2 separate regions of the Homo sapiens genome follow, and region 1 is linked to region 2. Evidence: fine-mapped expression QTL. Tissue or cell type: whole blood. Region 2 holds a variant in brackets; the other region holds the start of a gene. All regions are shown on one strand. Distances are between the middles of the regions.

What was found. PIP is the estimated chance that this variant, and not a neighbour inherited with it, causes the effect.
Region 1: CREB3L2 starts here. The variant in region 2 is fine-mapped to the expression of CREB3L2 in whole blood (TOPMed, PIP above 0.99). The same link has a PIP of 0.9 or more in blood mononuclear cells.

The regions. Positions count from the first base shown.
Region 1 is chr7:138,000,422-138,003,185 of GRCh38, forward strand. CREB3L2 (cAMP responsive element binding protein 3 like 2) reads right to left here and starts at 1,665. Exons shown (of 12, transcript NM_194071.4): 1 at 1,183-1,665. The coding sequence starts at 1,284. It overlaps LOC124901752 (a long non-coding RNA gene), which reads left to right and starts at 1,886. Exons shown (of 3, transcript XR_007060551.1): 1 at 1,886-1,969. RefSeq lists enhancers at 690-1,288, 1,205-1,344, 1,289-1,886, 1,435-1,524, 1,615-1,684 and 2 more.
Region 2 is chr7:137,950,744-137,953,507 of GRCh38, forward strand. The region is part of intron 1 of CREB3L2 (cAMP responsive element binding protein 3 like 2); the gene reads right to left. CREB3L2-AS1 (CREB3L2 antisense RNA 1) reads left to right here and starts at 2,605. Exons shown (of 4, transcript NR_161346.1): 1 at 2,605-2,764. The variant A/C (reference allele first, on the strand shown) is at 1,528.

The sequences.
Region 1 (2,764 bases), 50 kb after region 2:
AACTACCACTCCCTCTCAGCCCTGCACTCTGCATTTTTTTTAAACAAGCCACTCTCAGCCACCACAAATACTTCGGTGGGAATCAGCAGGGAGGCCCTCATTCCTTGTCTCAAAATAACGTCAGCCAGAGTCAAAGGCCAAAGAGGTGGAGCCTGCAGGCCATTTTGCGAAAGTTTCAAATATCTTGGTACTGACCCCATTAAAAAAGCGTGAAGGGGAAGCAGCCAAGCCTCCAGTGGTTTTCTCATTAGTGTCCCCCCTCACCCCAGCCCCACCCCCATTACAAACGTCTGCATGGATAAGAATCAAACAAAGAGATCTTGCATAAAGTCCTATGATCAGTGCTGGCTATTGAAAACAAAATTTCATTTTGCAAACTTAATACCAAAAACTTGACATTAAAAACTTTAAAAGAAATGTGCGTGCTCTGGGACAGCTTAATCCCCCAAGAGATCTCTGAGGCATTAGTATAAGACTGAACAAGCAACTGGTGAGCTGTCCCACCTTCCCCAGAGCCTTTCTTAAATATGCAACTGTCTCAGATTTTCCATACTCCTCTGCTGGTTTTTCCTCCGAAGAGGGAGGAAGGAGACTTCTTGGTCGTACAGTTTAAGAAAGCAAATAAAGCCGCCTTTCTCCCTAACGTAGAGGAGCCCTTTCAACACACACACACACACACACACACACACACACACACACACACACGTGTACTTTTTAAAATATAAATATGAAAGAAGAGGAAGGGAGGGAGAGAGGGAGAGAGAATACGAGACAGATGAAAAGGAAATGCTACTTAATCTTGTCCAGTTTTTGAAAACCTCAAAAAAAAATCAATAGCAAACTAGGCGGAGGCATGTTATTCTCAAAACACACACTCCCTCTCCCGCATTACAGTACTGTTAACAACAGCAAATGATATTACAGATGGAAAAAGCCTCAGGGAAAAAAGCATGAATTGTTAAAGGAATACAAAGTGGCATTACTCTCATGAGAAATGTAAAGGGGCCAGCTGCCCGCCTTCATCTGCTCAGACATTAAAGTACACCTCGCCCAGGACCTCTTGATTCTGACCATGCCCTGCCCCAAACCCTGCCTTCCCGGGTCCCAGGACTCCAGCTGCTCCTCGCGTGACAACACTTGCCCGCTTTGAAAGCCCTCCTGCCCCGCCCGCCGGGTCCTCACCGTGTGGTACATGAGGGCCTCGCCGTCCCCGGGCTCTGACAGCTCGCTCAGCTTGCGGTCCCACTGCAGCACGCCCTGCTCCCCGCTCTCCAGCACCTCCATGGCGGTGCGGGCCGCGCTGGGCCGAGGATGCTAAGCGCAGGAGGGGACGCGCAGAGCTGCCTCGGACCGGCAAGGTTCCTCTCTCTCCGCGTGTGCTTGCGTGTGTGCGCGCGCGTGTCTGTAGTTTTGCACTTGGAAAGCAAACGTCTGCTCCTCTGCCGGAGAGAGGATGGCCAAGCGCTCCCGTCCGGTGTCCTCGGAGATCCGAGAATCCCCAGGGACACGAGCCGGACCAAAGGCTGCCGGGGCTAAAGCGGGATGTGCATCCAAAATGAAGGCAGAAGACCCGCTCTCATCCCAGGAAAATCCCTTAGCCGCAAGCCCACTTGCCGCTACGGCTCCAGACACAAACTTTGAGGGACCCCAGGGCTCCTCGGCTCTGCTCCAGGACCCAGCTGCGGCCCCACCTCCCTCCAAGGCTTGACCAATTGGATATCCGCCTTGCCTAGCAGACCCAATCAGAAGTCTCATTCTCGGCTTTGTCCCGCCCCCAAAGGCAGAGGCCGCGGGAAGTCTCCGCCCACGCCTTGGAATGTAGCCGGGGAGTGTCTGTGACGTCACCGAGGAACTCCTCCTGCTTGAGCGCGGCCCGCTGTCTGCTGTCGCCTACAGCTGACCAATAGAGGGCTTGGGTCCGGAAGTGATGGACTGGAGGCTTGACTAATGTGAAAGGGGCGTCTGAAAGGTACAGCCAATGAAATAGCGACAAGAATACATTTTGTAAAAGAGGGAGGGTGAGTTCAGTCCTCTTGCTGAGAATCCTCAGAAATTTACCAGCGCGCCGACAGGGGGCGCGAGAGTTGTTGCGCGGGGGGCTTAAACATTTTCGAGTACTTTAGTTCATTTGAATCTCTCGGAATTTTTTTAATGGATTACATATTATACAAAAATACAAATATTCCTCATGCACATACATTTATATTAGTGCAGCTCTAGGAAATTGTCATTGTTCTTCACCTTTTTCGCCCATTTTCTGTTGGGTTCTTCTATTTTTTATGGACTTCACTTATTGTATGTTTTTCTTTCATCTGCTTGATAAGAGTCAATGGCATGCTTTTCCAGGTCCTACAGAAGTGAGCCCAGTCCTTGAATTCATAGAGCTTTTATCTCAGAGGAGTCAGGCAATAAACAAAGAAATAAACATTTAAATTCAGAAAGTGGAAATTGCTATAAAGAAAAATAAAAGCAGGAAAACAGGATGCGTCAAGATCGATGCTATTTTACGTGCTGATCAGGGAAGTTCTTCCTAAAGGAAATGAGATTTCGGGGGAAGCTGGTATTCACGTGATTGCTGGGGAGGCCAGTGTGGCTGCAGCAGAGGTGCTTGGCAGGGAGGGGTGGGAAAGGCCAGAAAGGTGAGCCAGGGCCAGAGCACCAGGCCTGCCTCCTAGAATAGGGAAGAGATGGCCTGTTCTAAAGGAATTCCCCCGAACACTGTGATTCTTCTTCCTCCTTTTTAATTCCAAAAATATAGTTTACC
Region 2 (2,764 bases):
CACACTTTATAAAGGACTCACATATTCTCATTTAATTGCAATATTACAGGAGAAAGGGAACCTTTTCATTTCTCCACTCCAGTAATTCAAAGGCCTGGGGAGGCTTTCCCTAGTTTCAAGATCCCTAGTTTCATGGTACAGCCATGGTACAGTCTGAAGAATAATACACTGATCCTCACTATTCACAGATTCCATATTTCTGAATTGTGTCTAATTGATAAAATGTATTTGTAACCTCAAAAATCAATACTTGTGGCACTTTCATGGTCATTTGAGAATCCGCATAGAGTGGCAAAAAATTTGAGTCACTGACATGCACGTGCCCAGCTAAGGCTGAAAAAGGGCACACTCTGCCTTCTTGCTGTAGCTCTCAGGCTATTACGCAGGTTCCTTTTCATGGTCTATTTAGTGCCATGTTTTTCATATCTTTGTGCTTTTTGTTGGTGACGTTGCTGTCTAAAACACCTCCCAAGCACAGTGCTGAAGTGCTATCTAGTGTCCTAAGTACAAGACGGCTGTGATATGCCTCACAGAAAAAAATCCACGTGTTCGATAAGCTTTGTTCAGGTATGGGTGATAGCACTCTTGGCTGTAGCTCAATGTTAATAAACCAACAATATATTGATACATTAAGTATGGTGTCTTTAAACAGAAGCACACATAAAACAAGGTTATATACTGATTAGTGATAAAAATGTAATCAGACACCCGCAAGAACCTAATCCTCTATTTCCCTTAGCAGCAAAGGGTTAGTATTTGCTAGTTCAGTGTTCACAGTGACTTAAGAGACCATAACCACTGCAAATAACAAGAATTGATTGTACTTATTGAAATGTATAAGTATGGTATATAAGCTCAAGGAATTATTGGCGAAATGTCTGTCATGCATTCAAAGGGCAATGTATTAACTATCTAAAATCATATACATGAAAAAGACTGTAAGAAACACACAAAACAGGCCAGACATGGTGGCTCATGCCTGTAACCCCTGCACTCTGGGAGGTGAGGCAGAAGGACTGCTTGAACCCAGGAGTTCGAGACGAGACCAGTCTGGGCAACATAGGGAGACTCTGTCTCTACCAAAAAAAATGTTTTAATTAGCTGGGCGTGGTGGTGCACAGCTGCAGTCCCAGCTACTTAGGAGGCTGAGGTGGGAGGATCGCTTAAGCCCAGGAGGTGGAGGCTCTAGTGAGTCAGGATCACGCCACTGCACTATAACCTGGGTGACAGAGTGAGACCTAGTCTTCAAGAAATATACAAAATAGACAATAGGGCTGGTAGGATAGTGGGAACATAAGAGTTTTTCTTTTCTTATTTCTCTAACTTTGGTAATATGTTATTTTCGTAATTTAAAAATAAAATTTCAAATGCAAATTTACTCCCATCCATTAATATCTCTGAGAAAAATCCACAAGTCCTTATTGTCAAGTATATGACTAATACCCTGTTCAGCAGCCCTACAAAAAGGTAATTAAAACCATCTAGAGGCCTGGTGAGGTTTGATTTACTTTTCTGGGAAACTTGGAA[A/C]AGATCTTCCTAGTATGGACCTGATTTATCATCTGACTTTGAAGGTTCTCCTTGTGTTTGATTTCTATTAACCATCTCTTCCACATACTCAGCCTCCTTCCCAACTTCCCCATGGCTGAGAGGATATCCCCGCCCAGCCCTCAGGCTCTCAGCCTTTCAACTCAAATGTCACCTTAGAGAAACAGTGTCCATGACCCCTACGGTAGCCACAGGTCCCATTTTGTCATCTTCACTGCATTTGCCAGTCTGTGAAATTAGCTTACTGATTTATCTGTTCCAGTTTTTATGATCTGGCCCCTGCTTTCCCGCCTTTGCACTAGAATATACAGGGACTGTCTGTCTTGCTCAGTGTTTGACAGCCACCCTACCTACCCCACCCCAACTCTACCACACCTAGAAGGAAGTGCTCAGTAAGTATTTGCTGACTTACTAACTCTTAAGTTTTTCCTGATTCCTCTTTCTCCTTTGACCCCAAATCCAGATATAATCACTTATTTACCTATCTATCCTACTCCAGGAGGAGTTTAAGAATAATTGTTTTTGTTTTTGTTTTTTTTAGACGGGGTCTCTCTCTCTCACTCTTGTCAACTAGGCTGGAGTGCAGTGGCGTGATCTTGGCTCACTACAACCTCCGCCTCCCGGGTTCCAGCGATTCTCCTGCCTCAGCCTCTAACGTAGCTGGATTACAGGCGCCTGCCACCACGCCTGGATAATTTTTGTATTTTTCGTAGAGACAGGGTTTCACCATGTTGGCCAGGCTGGTCTCGAACTCCTGACCTCAAGTGATCTGCCTGCCTCGGCCTCCCAAAGTATTGGGATGAAAGGCATGAGCCGCTGTGCCCAGCCAGTTTAAGAATATTTCAATCACTTAGTAAGACCTTTTAATGTAAACTCCTTGATGTCTCTTGACTTCATCCTGATTTATTTCCTGGGAAACAAGAGAGCTCAGGGTTAGACAGTTTGTTCCCTCTAAGTCACTGTAGTTTATGTTAAGTGGGATTAGCTCCCGGTGGTGTTTCACTGAAAACCTGCTTACCGCTTAGTTGATTAACTGCTACTCCACATAACACATTCCTTCCTTATGACCAAATTACTGCCAGAGCCTTCTAACTTCTCTGCACCCACTCCAGTCTAGCTGAGGCCTGAGGAATAGATGGATAAATAACAGTATCTGAGACCTGCTGTTGGTGTATGTTAAATGTTCTTTAAAAAGCGTCAACCATCCCCAACACACGAC